Linked DNA regions of Homo sapiens. The protein of the gene in region 1 interacts with the protein of each later gene in a biochemical or structural test. Each region holds a gene or a part of one and is shown on either strand. Other genes may lie near its edges.

What was found.
Region 2: the proteins of GRIP1 (region 1) and DLG5 interact in a test that uses a peptide from one of them, tested with the Homo sapiens proteins (one large-scale study listed by IntAct).
Region 3: the proteins of GRIP1 (region 1) and EVI5 interact in a test that uses a peptide from one of them, tested with the Homo sapiens proteins (one large-scale study listed by IntAct).
Region 4: the proteins of GRIP1 (region 1) and CGN interact in a test that uses a peptide from one of them, tested with the Homo sapiens proteins (one large-scale study listed by IntAct).

Annotation. Positions count from the first base shown.
Region 1 is NC_000012.12:66,392,577-66,397,700, forward strand, and holds part of GRIP1 (glutamate receptor-interacting protein 1), read right to left. Parts: intron 1,777-5,124; coding exon 1,632-1,776; intron 241-1,631; coding exon 101-240; intron 1-100. UniProt on the Homo sapiens protein: May play a role as a localized scaffold for the assembly of a multiprotein signaling complex and as mediator of the trafficking of its binding partners at specific subcellular location in neurons.
Region 2 is NC_000010.11:77,920,158-77,923,755, forward strand, and holds part of DLG5 (disks large homolog 5), read right to left. Parts: intron 1-3,598. UniProt on the Homo sapiens protein: Acts as a regulator of the Hippo signaling pathway.
Region 3 is NC_000001.11:92,778,511-92,782,108, forward strand, and holds part of EVI5 (ecotropic viral integration site 5 protein homolog), read right to left. Parts: intron 1-3,598. UniProt on the Homo sapiens protein: Functions as a regulator of cell cycle progression by stabilizing the FBXO5 protein and promoting cyclin-A accumulation during interphase. May play a role in cytokinesis.
Region 4 is NC_000001.11:151,528,387-151,531,984, forward strand, and holds part of CGN (cingulin), read left to right. Parts: intron 1-963; coding exon 964-1,173; exon of another isoform or gene 1,174-1,178; intron 1,179-1,522; coding exon 1,523-1,729; intron 1,730-2,102; coding exon 2,103-2,360; intron 2,361-3,598. UniProt on the Homo sapiens protein: Probably plays a role in the formation and regulation of the tight junction (TJ) paracellular permeability barrier.

The DNA of each region.
Region 1 (5,124 bases):
AGATTTGTTTCCCTAGAATTACACACAGACACTAGCACATTCTTTCAAGGAAGAAAATGCACTGGAAATCCTTAATTGTGGCTTTCAATTCACTACTCACCATCTGTCTGTTTCTTAATTTTCAAGGTGACAGTCTCTCCTGCCATCTGTAACAAATGGATGGCTTCACTCAGAGGCTTCCCTTTCAAGCTGCTGCTATTGATGGCTAGGATTCGGTCTCCTATGTGGATTGCGCCAGTTCTGAAAAGCCAAATAGTAATAGGAGAGGTAGAAATAATCCCTGTATGGTACTGAATATAAATTCCCTGACATACCTTATACATTCATCATAATAAAGACTTGGTAAGGATCTCCAGAAGTCCCTTCTTGCTTTCTCCTGGGCAATGTTATAAGATAACTGCATCTGTTGTGGATTACTTTTTAGTTTCCAATAAAATTTTAAAAATTGTTTTAATTAGTTATTAAAATGAACTGTGTTTTTTAATTCCAAGAAAGCTGAGTCATTGGTTAAGCACCCTAAAAATCCCAAGAAAATGAACAATGTTGAATGACAAATGTAGTGGATAGCATGGAGCATCCTTTCTTTCTACAGATTTTTTTTTTTTTTTTTTTTTTTTTTTGAGACAGAGCCTCACTGTGTCACCCAGGCTGGAGTCCAGTGGCACGATCTTGGCTCACTGCAACCTCCGCATCCCGGGTTCAAGCAATTCTCCAGCCTCAGCCTCCCAAGTAGCTGGGATTACAGGCAAGCACCACCATCCCCAGCTAATTTTTCTATTTTTAGTAGAGATGAGGTTTCCCCATTGGCCAGGCTGGTCTTGAACTGACCTCGTGATCCATCTACCTCGGCCTCCCAAAGTTCTGGGATTACAGGTGTGAGCCACCGCACCTGGCCTGTATGAGCTAATTTCTAAGGTACACTGCAGCTCCAACATTTTGCAATGCTGTGTCTCTATTTTGCTAGCCACTGTTTTCAACTGTTAGCAGGAACAATGCATTTGTGTATTCCTGAGCTAGGTTACTGGAGGGCAGATTTGCTTATAGGGTTTGTTATATGTCCAACAACACATCTCAGAAAGAAATGCAGTTTAGCGGAGGGTGGGGAGTGGGTGTGTGTGTACATCATTGCCAAAGGAAAAAATGGACATTCCAGCTTTTAAGACATTATTAAAATGGGTTATACACTTTGTTTCCCATAATCCTTGAAGATGATGTCTGTATCATCCTTTTCTGAAAACACAGCAGCTAAGTGTGGCACCTGTCAGGTAACAGAGGCTCAGCAAGTGTTTGCTGAATGAAATTGGACAAGCTGTTCAACCTCCCTGAACTTTAGTTTCCTCCTCTCAAAATGGACACAATACAAATCCGCCTTCAGTCAATTGTGGTCAGCTTATACATTTCAGAGAGTAGTATCAATGCTAAGCCCAAGACGTCTTTTACTGCCTGTAAGATGCCCCTCAGAGTCAAGTCGGAACTCTGCCTGAGAGTTCTCAGGCTCTAAGATCAATCCTTTGTGCAGATTTTTAAAAGCCAACAGATAACCACAGAGAGAGGAGCATGTTTTTATGTGGTTGTGAGGAAGGAAGCCCGTCTCAGACACAGGTAATTATAACAGTTACTTCAAATTTTACCTTTCAGCTAATCCCCCTTTAGTGAGGCTTGAAATGATTATAGGATCAAACGGCTCTTCAGTTCCTGAAATTGTGATGCCAAGGGGCCCCCCGTAGCGTTTAAGCTCCACGGTGTAAATAATTGCTCCGGAACTTTCTTGCTCATCTGTAATAAATGCCAAGGAATCATAATTGATTTCTTTGGAAAAAGCAAAAGAGTAAGATGCATAGATTCATACATAAAAGAATTCAAAACATCCTCGTCAAAGTATCATGTCACAGAAAATAATTATTTTGGGAAGTAGCATTTCCTTAGTAGGATCTTACATTCAAATACAGGGATATAATCATTGTCAGTGCCAGGGGAGAGGAACACTGCCTAATGACTTATGTTTTAAATGTGTGAGATCCGCCCAGCTGGGGCTGCAGGACCTTTCAACTGTGTCCATGTCTAGGACAGTGCTTACCTAGCATTTAGTAAGTATGCAGTAAATATCTGTGAAATAAACATATGGCTGAGGAGGCATTATAATATGAGAGGAGAGAGTCACTCAGTAACAAAGAAGACAGACATTGGGTCACGCTGTTTCCGTTTTAAGCTTTACATGCATGCTAACTTTTGATATAGAAAAGTGGATTTTGCGAAGGGTTGGAACAAATAACATATATATGGTTAAGTGGAACTTAGATAAGTAAACTTGAAGACAACAGCAAGAAATCTAGAATCTCTTAGATATCATTCCACTGACTGTCTTCTAATGTGAGTCCTATCAGTGAATTACGGATATTAAAGTGGAGGTTTGAATGATCATCTCTCCTCTTTCAATGGAGTAACAGCTGTTGTAAGCTATGTTTCAACAGCATAGACCAGCCTGCCACACTGTCATAAACTAATTTTGGCTATTCAACATTATTATAGTTGAAGACACTTGTGAATGTGCTCTGCCTAAAGCACTGGCCAGAAAGATATCATGGGCCGCCTTCAACGTGATGGGTATTGTGATGGTGTCAGAGTTGCAAATAAGAAGTCTCAGAATTCAAAGGTTTTATTTGCTTCTGACATGCTTAAAGTTCTTGGGCACTTCTTGTTTTATTCCTTGGGCCTGGGAGCTGTGAATGGTTAAGGAACTGTTTCATTTCTGCAACTAAGGATAAAATGAAATGGTTCAGTGGCTACTTTAGCAAAATAGTCAGCTTTTACAGTCAGACTACATCCTAGTGAAGCATTAACATGGCCACATTTTTGCAGTGAGCAGCTGTTCGTTTACGATATGAAATCCTAAAATAAGGAGGAAAACCAAAGCTTGAGTTAACAATTCAATTATTTGTGTTTGCAGTGAAGAATTATGATGAATATAAAATGAAAGGTCTATCAAGTCATTTGGGAAGCAATGTGTCCTCTCTCGCCAGCACTTACTTCACTTCTGGCCATAGATTGGGAGTTTTGAATGCAGCCATTACCTCCACTTTCTGAGTGCTCTACTCAACGTATTTACTCCACACATTCAGAACTAAAGACCATCCACCACACACTGCAATGCTTAAGTCAACATTTTAGGGCACAAAATCTTCAACATTGGGCTCAAATTTACATTAGCAGCTGAGAAGCTCCCATATCAAGCCTAAAACAGCTCTGTTTGCTGGTTCACAAGTTTCTTCTGGGCTGATGCTGAAGTTGTGGCCAATAGGCTGGTGATGATCTGCTAAGGGCTCCAGAGAGAAACATCAAGATAGAGGGTAACCAAATAATCAGCAGAGGTCAAAAGTCTAAATTTTCCTACAGTACGATATTTTGTCACCTTTCAGAGCTGGCTTTGACCTAAATGAACAGAGTACTATTGGATAGATTACATGTACTTTGCAGCCCTCATCATCAACAATATCCTGGATGAAATTCTGAATGAGTCATTTGATTAGTAGTCCCTGGCACAGTTGAACATTAGTTACTGCTGGACACTCTGTGTGGGCCATTCAGTGGAGGTGTGTATGCCATAGGAAAGACCTTGACCCCTTATTGCTCTCTGCATAAGGCAAGCATGAGCACAAACTTGTCAATGGGTGCCAAGCATTTTGGGTTGGAGCATCTGCTCTTTATGGGTTTTGGGGAGAAGGACAGTTGCCCAGGACCTGGAGACCCAAGAACCAGTGGGAAGTGTCCATTGAAACTGCAGTCAAGATGAAAACAAACACTGGACTATGGAAGGGGAGTTGGGGGTAGTCCCATTCATTGGGAGAAGGGGGGCACCTGGTTCTACTCAGCTCATTCTGCAGAGTGAGTATTCCATGTTATTTTTTGACAATGTAACTTGAGACGCAAAGATGACAAAATAATACCAGAGATGAAGTGAATGGCTTTAGGATAGTCTGTTTCAGGCTGCCTTATTTGGAGACATTTTTTTATTGGCATCTGAGTCCTCACTGACTAGAAGGCAATTGTTAGGTCACCCAATGAGTTTAGATAGTGATGGAGATGCAAATCTGGGAAATGGTACCTCTTAACTAAGAAGGACACATTCCTGTGATTACATTGGGGTGGAAACAGGATGACATGATATTCTATTTAAATTATGACAGAAATGGAAGCTGATTTCTGTTTTCTTTAACAAATAAATTGCCAGAAACACAAAAGAGAAAGGAGATTTGGCCAGGTGCAGTGGCTCACACCTGTAATCCCAGCGCTTTGGGAGGCCAAGGTGGGTGGACCACCTGAGGTCAGGAGTTCAAGACCAGCCTGGCCAACGTGATGAATCCCCGTCTTAACTAAAAATACAAAAATTAGCCAGGCATGGTGCCTCGTGCCTGTAGTCCCAGCTATTTAGAAGGCTGAAGCAGGAGAATCACTTGAACCCAGGAAGTGGAAGTTGCAGTGAGCTGAGATCATGTCACTGCTCTCCAGCCTGGGCGATGGAGCGAGACTCTGTCTCAAAAAAAAAAAAAAAAAAAAAAAAGAGAAAAGGGAGATTTAAGAGACATTACAATCAAAAGCAATGAGTAGATCATTTGGGATTCTAATAAAACCAACTGTTATAAAAAGGTATCTATTGGCCAGGCGCAGTGGCTCACGGCTGTAATCCCAGCACTTTGGGAGGCCAAAGTAGGCGGATCACCTTAGGTCAGGAGTTTGAGATCACACTGGCCAACATGTCCAAAACCCCGTCTCTACTAAAAATACAAAAATTAGCCAAGTGTGGTGGCACGTGCCTGTAGTCCCACCTACTCAGGAGGCTGAGGCAGGAGAATCGCTTAAACCTGGGAGGTGGAGGTTGCAGTGAGCCAAGACTGTGCCACTGCACTCCAGGGTGAGTGACACAGCAAGACACCCTCTAAAAAAAAAAAAAAAGCTATGTGTTTTTCTATCAGATAGATTGCTTTAAAAAAACAGTTGGTTTTAATTAGGATTTTATATATATCAGGGAAATGTGAACATTGAGTGAATATTTTATAAGATTAAAAATATTGCTAATGATGATATTTAGTTATGTGTTTTGAAAGAGTATTTTTTAGGCATACGTTA
Region 2 (3,598 bases), on another chromosome or scaffold:
AGGCTAGTTGCTGTCTACTACTGCCACTGTTGTGCTATATTACTCAGGGTAACAAAATGCTCTTCCATTTTTCCTACCATGGATTGTCAAATAGCACAGTGAAGTAGTTAGTGTTTTAATTACTTTGTAGAGGAGATAAGCTCAGAAGGGTTAAAAACCTTGCTCAAGGTCTAAAACCTTGTAAGGTCTGATCATTACTACCTAGACCCACCATCCCACTCCAGCAATGACCGCCTGTGCTAACTGTATTATCGCACAAAGGTGGTAATGCTTGGAGTGGACATTCATCTGCTCTTTTACCTGCGTGACATCGCTGCTGCTTGTCTTCCTTTAGACAACTGCTCTGCCTCCCTCTAAAAACCCACATAGTGTTGGAATGGGCTGCCAATCACAGTAGCCCATCACCTTACCCTGGGGTTCCACTGCTGGGCACAGTGCCAAAGCTGAGCCAGTCTTAGTCCTCTAGCCCTGGCCACAGTGACCGGGCCTCATGTGGACACATAACACTGGCCAGACCAATCAGAATCCTACCATGAGGTTTGTCTGCCTGGGCTGATTGGATAGAGCTCCCTTTCTTCCCTGGTCAGGGGCTGTGAACCTGAACAGAGGGGCCTGAGGTCATGTTCAGACCCGTGGGAAAAGCCCACAGCATCGATCCAAGAGGTCAAACGTCCCAAAGGCCAGTTTCCACCATCCATCCAAAGGTTGTGGAATATTCTAAGTCAATACATTTCTCTTTTTCTACCTAAGATGATCTGAGCTAAGTTTCTGTCATTTTGCAATAAAGGTACCCTGAAATGATACACAGATAAAATCTGCCCTTCACTTAAAAACCTCTTCTCAACCATTAATTTCAAATGACTCTGCCACTTCCTCTTAAATAACACAATTAAAACCACCTAAATTAGCCATGCAGGGTGGCATGCGCCTGTAATCTTAGCTACTAAGGAGGCTGAGGCAGGAGGATGGCTTGAGCCCAGGAGTTTGAGGCTGCAGTGAGCTATGATTGCACCACTGCACTCCACTGTCTCTAAAAAATAAGTAAATAAACAAACAAAAGAACCAAAAGAAAAACCACAACAGCTGGAGCTTTTACTTATGTCCCTTGCCCTGCTGACCCTCCAGGGCAGAGGGGATGAAGAAAAGGTGGCTGGTACCCGAAGGAAGTGGAGAGAGAACAAAAGGCCAGGCAACCTCTGCTGAATAATAAATAACCCACACCTGACAATCAGCACCCATCTGCATTAGTCCCACTAGAAAAGCCTGGCAGGGTTATTCCCTTGGGGAAAAAAAACAAACTTCCAGCTCTAATTTCTGACAGTGTACAATGCCTAAATTCAAACCTCCCACTCAGCCTAGCCATTAAGGTCCTCCAGATTACCTCTGCATCCCCAATTCCCTTCCACCCAGAGCCAAGGCCAAACCCCTGCTCTGCTCAGGCTGGGTAAACACATGGCTCCTCTCTATGGCTCAGCCTGTGCGGTCCAGCCTACGCAGCCCACACGTCCTCCCTCCATGGCTCCATGCATTCAGAGCTTCACTTCAACACCAAGTCCCAGCACATTCGTGAAGCTCTCCTCGGCTTCTCCAGCGGACGCTGCTGGCTCCATTCTCTTAAGTTTGATGAAGCAAGCCAGCCAGTTCACTAGGAAAGTAAAGAGGAGGCACAGGAGGTGTGGGGAGTGGGAACGAGAAGGAAACATCAGGCAATGAGCACGCGAGAGGTCCAGCCAAGTTCTGCCATTTCTGCCTCCCAATAGAGGCCTGGTGGGAATGACTTGAGGAGTCCCACATTTAGATGGTAATGAGAGCCACTAAAGGTGAATGAGAGTATCTGGGGAAAGTGTGTAGCATACCGAGTTTTTTATAAAAGAAAAAGCCTGTTTGTGCATCTCTATCAGTTGACCTGTCTCATAATGTCACTCTCATGAGCGTCCCATTCCCCCAACAAGGCGGCAAGCTACGGACTAGAATTACATCCTGTGCACCCCGGCCCCTGTCTACACCCCAGCCCCACCTGGGCCAGGCACTTCAATGCTCCCGGTGACAGAGGCAGGCAGTGCAGCACCATTAGCCCCATCTTACAGATGAAGATACTGAGGCTCACCCCAGGGGCAGGGAGTTGAGAATCCTCAAGGGAAAAAACTCAGGTGTTTCCCCAAATCAAAGGGAAAAAACAAAGGACTGCATGGGGCTCCAAGTGACCAAGCTAGACTTGGTTACTGGGAAAAACAAGAGACCCAACTGAGCCACTCAGAAGTAAACAATTCTGTCTTCTCCCTACCACCAGCTGGGGCAAAGGTGTTCGCTTGTTCCCCGCAGATCCATGTATCAAATCCGGGACAAAAGAAAGCTACATAATTTCAGAGTCCCACAGTGACTGGAAATGTCCTGAAATTGTAGTGGGAAGGCCTAACCAGGGAACAGGAAAAACCACCCCAGACAAGGAATCAGGGGCACTGGGCTTGGCCTTGACTCAGGCACCTTTCTGCCCTGCGACTTCTTCCTTACAGACAGGGCCCTGGAACCAAAGATCATAAGACACCACTCATCTCCCTGGGGCTGCCACAGAGTTAATGAGATATGAAGATAGGACACAAAATCCTGAATGACAATGCCCTATCAATACCGGAATAAGAGCCACACCTCCAACAAAAAAACCACAACACAGTGTGTCTCCTAGTCACTCCACACCCCCAGGCCTGAGCGTGGTAGGTTTAAATGTCTGGGGATCTAACTCAGCAAGAGTTGCCCCGATGGGTTGGGTTTGCTCACCTGCCCACCAACACCCAGGCACATGTCCTCCCCAGTTTCCTTCCAGTTCCAGGCCCCACGTGGTAGGCTGCTGCCGATGCAGACTCCCTCAGCACCCAAGTGCCAGTGGGGGATGGGCATTCTGGATCAGGAGCCCACACAGGGTGTGGAATCCATCAAGGAAGCTCCTAGGTGGGTGATGGCATCATCTCCAACAGAGAATCGGTGCCAAAGCAGCCACCCCTTGACGCTAAGGATCCCAGGGAGCCAGCTGGTTCCTCTCTCAGGCTCCGCAATGGCCTCGAACTGAGGCCAATTCAAACCCAGAGCTGCTGCCCAGAGCACAGAGTGGAAATCACTCAGGAGTGGAAGGAGGCAGGACCAAGTGCTGGGTTTTCCTGACTATGGCTCCTCAAGGAAGAAGACTTCCATTCCTTCAGCCAGAGCCGCTCTCTTATGCACTGAGCTTTGACCATAAGGAATACTTCCTGGCTAAAAGAAAAAAAAGCAAAAAAGTGGAGACCTACAACACAGCAATTTACCCTTCACAAAGGAGCCTCCCCTGCGCCGGGGCAGTGGCTCACGCCTGTAATCCCAACACTTTTGGGAGGCTGAGGCAAGCAGATCGCTTGAGCTCAGGAGTTCGAGACCATCCTAGACAACATGGAGAAATGCCATCTCTACACAATATACAAAAATTAGCTGGTGTGGTGGCATGTGCCTGTGGTCCCAGCTACTTGCGGGGCTGAGGCAGGAGGATGGCTTGAGACCAGGAGGCGGAGGCTGCAGTGAGCCGAGATTGTGCCACTGCACTCCAGCCTGGGTGACACAGTGAGACCCTGTC
Region 3 (3,598 bases), on another chromosome or scaffold:
CCTTACCCAACCCTCTTTTCCTGAGTTCCCAGATACTGACAACCAGACCTCAACTCTCCAAGCAGAAAACTGGAAGATACTCTCTGGAAAATATGACTGGGACAAAAGGAAAGATAAATACAGTGGAGACAGCCTCAAACAATCCACCCAGATCAATTATTTCAATCTTGGCTACACACTGGAATTATCTTGGCAGCTTTAAAAAATACTGGTGCTAATCTTCGGAGATAGAAATCAGAATAGTGGTCACCTCTAGGCTGGGAGTGAGACAACAGAAGAAAGGGATATGAAGGAATTTTCTAGAATTTTTTGCCATGCTCTACATCTTATATCGGTTACATGGTAAAAATCAAACTATACACTTAAATTCTGTGCATTTTACTGTATGTAGCCACACCTAATTTTTTTAACTATCCCTACCTGGGACCTAGTCTCAGAGATTCTGACGTATTAGCAGCAGGGATTTTTTTTTTTAATTCTCCATGTGATTATAATGTGCAGCCGAAGCTGAGAATCACTGCTTTAGACTCTAGAATATAGGGTAAAACAACATGTCCTTAAGTCCTACTTACAAGTTCAGGACTTCCCATCAGCTTTCAGTAGCCCACTGTTAATCATGAACAGACAACCAAGGATTACCAGTCTTCCGAGGAGGGCCTCTACTAATAAGACTATACCAAATAGGAAAAAAAGTAACTTGGAAGAAACTATGCAAGGAAAAGAAGGTCTAGGCCAGGTGCAGTGCCTCACAGCTGTAGTCCTAGCACTTTGGGAGGCCAAGGTGGACGGATCACCTGAGGTAAGGAGTTCAAGACCAGCCTGGCCAACATGGTGAAAACCCGGCTCTACTAAAAATACAAAAATTAGCTGGGCATGATGGCAGATGCCTGTAATACCAGCTACTTGGAGGGCCGAGACGGGGAATCGCTTGTACCCGGAAGATGGTGGCTGCAGTGAGCCGAGATCACGCCACTGCACTCTAGCCTGGGTGGCTGAGACTCCGTCTCAAAAAAAAAAAAAGAAAGGCTTAAGAAAACGATTTTTAACATTCTCAGAGAGATAAGAACAGATATGGCACCCATGAAACAAGAAGAGATGGAGAAATAAGTGACTGAGTAGAGGAGGCTGAACCTACTGGCCTGCAAAAGGGAATACAATCAAGAAACAAGCTGAGGAGTCTCTCTGAGCCTATTCTGGCTCAGAAGAAGGCTGCCAGATAAAGTGATATAAAAATTTTTTTAATTTAAAAAATAAAAAGAAGCAAGCTGATTTGGCTAACTCACAGAATCACAGAAAGGCTCAGAATCTAGGAGCCTAGGAGTTCCCAGGTATAGGGTCAGTGGAGAGGCATGGGGCTAAAGAGAAAGTAAATGGTTTAAAGTTTATGTAAGGTACAGTTGGACTCTAGTCTAGGTTCCCTCCTCTGCCACCATTCCTATCTCATAAATTTATTTTCTAGAAACTCTGACCTGGTGATACGATTTGGCTCTGTGTCCCCACCCAAATCTCACCTTAAATTGTTAATAATCCCCACATGTCAAGGGCAGGACCAGGTGGAGATAAATGAATCAAAGGGGCAATTTCCCCCACCCTGTTATTGTGATAGTGAGTGAGTTCTCACGAGATCTGATGGTTTTACAGGGGGCTTCACCCTTTGCTGGGCATTCATTCGCTCTCCTGTTCCCCTGTGAAGAGGTGCTTTCCACCATGGTTGTAAGTTTCCTGATGCCTCCCCAGCCATATGGCACTGTAAGTCAATTACACCTCTTTTCTTTATAAATTACCCCGTCTTGGGTATTCTTCATAGCAGCATGAGAACAGACTAATACACCTGTGAGACTCCAGACTCAAGAAAAGTAAAGTAAGGCTCAAGGCTGAAAGCCAAGGGGTTAAACAGAAGTGTGTTTGATGAAAAGCAGCCCCTGCCCACAGCCCACTTTCTTTGCCCACCTCTCAAAGTTGGAGAGCTTATATTACCACATATCAAAGCTTATTATAAAGTTACATTAATACAGTGATATTAGTGCAAGGATGACAAATATACAAATAGAACAAAGTATCCAGAAACAGACCCACACTAATTTCATAAATTAGCTGACCATACTGTTATCTAATTTATGAAAAAAAGTGCCACACAGTGCAGATGGACAAGGATGGTATTTGCAATAAATGGTGCTGGATCAAACAGACGTCTATATAGAAAAAAGTGAATCTTGGCCCGGTGCAGTGGGTCATGCCTAAATCCCAGCACTTTGGGAGGTCAAAGCAGGTGGAGATCATGTTACTGCACTCCAGCCTGGGTGATACAGTGAGACCTTGTCTCAAAGAAAAAAAAAAGTAAATTTTTTTTTTTTTTTTTGAGACCGAGTCTCACTCTGTCGCCCAGGCTAGAGTGCAATGGCACAATCTCGGCTCACTGCAACCTCTGCCTCCTAGGTTCAAGCGATTCTCCTGCCTCAGCCTCCTGAGTAGCTGGGATTACAGGCACCCGCCACCACGCCCAGCTAATTTTTGTATTTTTAGTAGAGACAGGGTTTCGCCATGTTGGCTAGGCTGGTCTCAAACTCCTGACCTCATGATCCGCTCGCCTCGGCCTCCCAAAGTGCTGGGATTTCAGGCATGAGCCACCACGCCCGGCCTAAAAAGTGAATCTTGACCCCTGCGATTCATCAAGAATTTACTCTAAATTATATACCTTAAATGCAAAAAGTAGGGGATGGGTACAGTGGCTCACACCTGTAATCCCAGCACTTTGGGAAGCCGAAGAGGGCAGATTGCTTGAGCCCAAGAGTTTGAGACCAGCCTGGGTAATATGTTGAAACCCTGACTCTACAAAACATACAAAAATTAGCCAGGCATGGTGGCATATGCCTGTAGTCGTAGTCACAGCTACTCAGGAGGCTGAGGTGGGAGGAATGCTTGAGCACAGGAGGCGGAGGTTGCAGTGTTCTGAGACTGCACCACTGCACTTCAGACCCTGTCTGAAAAAAAAAAAAATTTTTTTTGCAAAAAGTAAAATAAAATTGCTATAAGACAACACAGAAAAATATGTTCATATTCTCAGGTTAGGCATTGATTTCTTAAATAGGACACAAAAAGCAGTAACCATAAAGGACAAGATTGATAAAGTATACTTCATTAAAATTAAGAATCTCAGGCTGGGTGCAGTGGTTCATGCCTGTAATCACAACACTTTGGGAGGCTGAGGCTGGTGTAGGTGTATGACTTGAGCCCAGGAGTTCGAGACCAGCCTATGCAACATGGCAAAACCCCATTTCCACTAAAGATACAAAAATTAGCTGGGCATGGTGGTGCTCATCTGTAGTTCCAGCTACTTGGGGGTTAAGGCAGGAGGAATACCTGAGTCTTGGGAGATCAAGATTGCAGTGAGCCGTGATCGTGCCACTGCACTCCAACCTGGGCAACAGAGTGAGATTCTGTCTCAAAAAAAAAAAAAAAAAAAAAAAAGGCCAGGCACGGTGGCTCACACCTGTAATCCCAGCACTTTAGGAGGCCGAGGTGGATGGATCATGAGGTCAAGAAATCAAGACCACCCTGGCCAACATGGTGAAGCCCTGTCTCTACTAAAAATACAAAA
Region 4 (3,598 bases), on another chromosome or scaffold:
TATAAAAGTCATCTTTGTGTACAATCCAATGGGTTTTTTTTTTCTTTTTGAGATGGAGTCTTACTCTGCTACCCAAGCTGGAGTGCAGTGGCACAATCTCGGCTCACTGCAACCTCTGCCTTCTGGTTCAAGCCATTCTCCTGCCTCAGCTTCCCAAGCAGCTGGGATTACAGGCACACACCACCACGCCCGGCTAATTTTTGTATTTTTGGTAGAGACAGGGTTTCACCATGTTGTCCAGGCTGGTTTTGAACTCCTGACCTCAGGTGATCCACCCGCCTCAGCCTCCCAAACTGCAGGCATGAGCCACTGGCGCCTGGCCCCCAGTGGTTTTTATTATATTAACAAAGTTGTACAACCATCATCACTATTTAATTACAGAACATTTTCATTACCCCCTCAAAGGCGCCAAACCCATTAGCAATAATTCCCCCCACCCAATGGCAACCACTAATCTACTTTTTGTCTCTGGATTTACCTATTCTGGATATTTAATATAATTGAATCCTATAATATATGGGCCTTAAGGGTCTGGCTTCTTTCACCTAGCATAGTGTTTTCAAGGTTTGTCCATGTGGTAGCAAGTATGAGTACTTCATTCCTTTTTATGGCTGAATAACATTCCACTCTGTGGGTATACCGTGTTTAGTCCAGTCATCAATTCGTGGACATCTGGGTTGTGTATCCATCTGGGCTATAATGAATAATGCTACTATGAACATTCGCGTATAAGTTTTTTTGTGAACACATATTTTCGGTTCTCTTGGGTTACCTAAGAGTGGAATTGCTGGTGATATAAATGGTAAATCTGTGTTTAACTTTTTGAGAAACTGCCAAACTACTTTCCAAAGTGGCCACATCAGTTTTTATTCCCTTGGCAGTGTATGAGAGTTTCAGCTTCTCCACATTCAGGTATCTTAGTCTGGCTCTGGGTGCCCCATCACCATTCCCGTTTCCTTCCAGGAGCTGCTCCGGACACAGGAGGAGCTTAAGGAACTGCAGGCAGAACGGCAGAGCCAGGAGGTGGCTGGGCGACACCGGGACCGGGAGTTGGAGAAGCAGCTGGCGGTCCTGAGGGTCGAGGCTGATCGAGGTCGGGAGCTGGAAGAACAGAACCTCCAGCTACAAAAGACCCTCCAGCAACTGCGACAGGACTGTGAAGAGGCTTCCAAGGCAAGGGGAGTGGGCACAGGGCTTAGGAGGTGGAGGCTGAGGGTGTCTGGAGGGCTGAGGAGCCAGAGGGTGTGGAAAGTTACCTGTCATGGGTATGTACTGACCAGCTCCTGGGTCCTAGGCATGTGGTTCAAAGAAGCCAGGATTTGGCAGGGGGAGGATACCTGTATCTGTGTAGGGGTGGGATTCTCAGAGAAGCGTCTGGCTGGTGGCAGCTGCTCTCTTTAAGCCTCATTCTTATGGGCTGTCTTTGGGATGGCTTTCCTGGGTGTGGTCAATGGCCCCAAGCCCTGGGGTCTGAGCTGCCACGCCCTGGGGTCTGAGCTGCCACCCCCTGAACCGTCCTTAGGCTAAGATGGTGGCCGAGGCAGAGGCAACAGTGCTGGGGCAGCGGCGGGCCGCAGTGGAGACGACGCTTCGGGAGACCCAGGAGGAAAATGACGAATTCCGCCGGCGCATCCTGGGTTTGGAGCAGCAGCTGAAGGAGACTCGAGGTCTGGTGGATGGTGGGGAAGCGGTGGAGGCACGACTACGGGACAAGCTGCAGCGGCTGGAGGTCAGTGGTTCTGCCCTCCCAGCCCTCTCTGCTCAGCCCTGGTGAAATACTCCTATGCTAAGTAGTTAGCCATCAGTTTCACTTTGCCCTTAGTGTGCATCTGTTTTGCCTCCCCAAACCTGCTCTGTTAACCTTGGGTTTATTTCCTGGTGTATACTTTGGCGCCAATGTTCAGTCTTTGCACTGGTAGTTTTGTTTCTTATTTCTCACCCTTTGCTTGCTCTATGTGTCCTGATTTCTTTGCTAGGAGCCTGTTTTCATTGCACATCATTTTCATAAATACCTCCTTTCTCCTGCCCAGCTACCCACCTCCAAATGACTTGAACCCAAGTTTTACCTTTTCTCAGTCCAACCCTGCTTCCCTACCTCCCAGGCAGAGAAACAGCAGCTGGAGGAGGCCCTGAATGCGTCCCAGGAAGAGGAGGGGAGTCTGGCAGCAGCCAAGCGGGCACTGGAGGCACGCCTAGAGGAGGCTCAGCGGGGGCTGGCCCGCCTGGGGCAGGAGCAGCAGACACTGAACCGGGCCCTGGAGGAGGAAGGGAAGCAGCGGGAGGTGCTCCGGCGAGGCAAGGCTGAGCTGGAGGAGCAGAAGCGTTTGCTGGACAGGACTGTGGACCGACTGAACAAGGAGGTGGGGCATGGGGTATTCTGGGCCTTTAGGAAGAGGCCCAGCTCATCCAGAAGCTGGCCTGAGAGGACAGGGGCTTGGGGGAGAGGGGTTAGTCAGAATGTGTGATGATTATGGCCAGGTGCGGTGACTCACTCCTGTAATTCCAGCACTTTGAGAGGCTGAGGTAGGCAGATACCCGAGGTCAGGAGTTTGAGACCAGCCTGGCCAACATAGCAAAACTCTGTCTCTACTAAAAATACAAAAAATTAGCCGGGCTTGGTGGCTCATGCCTGTAGTCCCAGCTACTCAGGAGGGTGATGCAGGAGAGTCACTTGCACCCGGAAGGTGGAGGTTGCAGTGAGGCGAGATCATGCCACTGCACTTCAGCCTGGGTGACAGAGCAAGACTCTGTCTTAAGAAAAAAAAAAAAAGAATGTGTGATGTTTGCTTTCCTCAAGTTCATTGTTAGGAAGACCAAGACCAAATCTTCTGGAAGGGGCATCCTTCCTACCTCCCCTCCATGTTTTTGCTCTTTCCCTTACATCCTATTCCTTTATGGTCTTCATTCTTGGAGAACATCTCCTGGGATTCTCCCTTGGGAGTCTACAAAACCTAAATACAAGAATCTTCAATGGCCAGCTTGGGCAACATAATAAGACTCTGTCTCTACTTAAAAATAAAATTAGCCTGCTGTGGTGGCTTGTTCCTCAGTTTCTCTTTATAGATGGGGAATTGAGACCCAGAGAAGATAAGTAACTTGCCTATGGTTGCTAATTAGTGGTAGAGCCAGGATTTGAACCCAGACATCTGTATTCCCAGCTACTCGGAAGGCTGACGTAGGATTGCTTGAGCCCAGGAGGTTGAGGCTGCAGTGAGCTGTGACTGCCCCACTGCGCTACAGCAAGAGCCTGTCAAAAAAAAAAATCTTCATTGGTAGAATTTTAAATTTGGGTGAGGGGAAGGAGAAAAGAAAGAAAAAAGAAAAGGAAATAAATTGCTTTTGCTGCTAAGGTTCTCCTCCCAATCTTTTTGTAAAGCAAGAGCAAACACGTAATATGTTACATCAATTCTAAAGTGCACATTTTATCATTTGTCAATGAAAAATGCACATCTTATCATTTGTCAATGAAAAATGCACATCTTATCATTTGTCAATGAAAAATGCACATCTTATCATTTGTCAATGAAAAATGCACATTTTATCATTTCTGAAATAGAGTTGTGTCTTATACCTTATGGTATGTTATAGTTTAATTGGC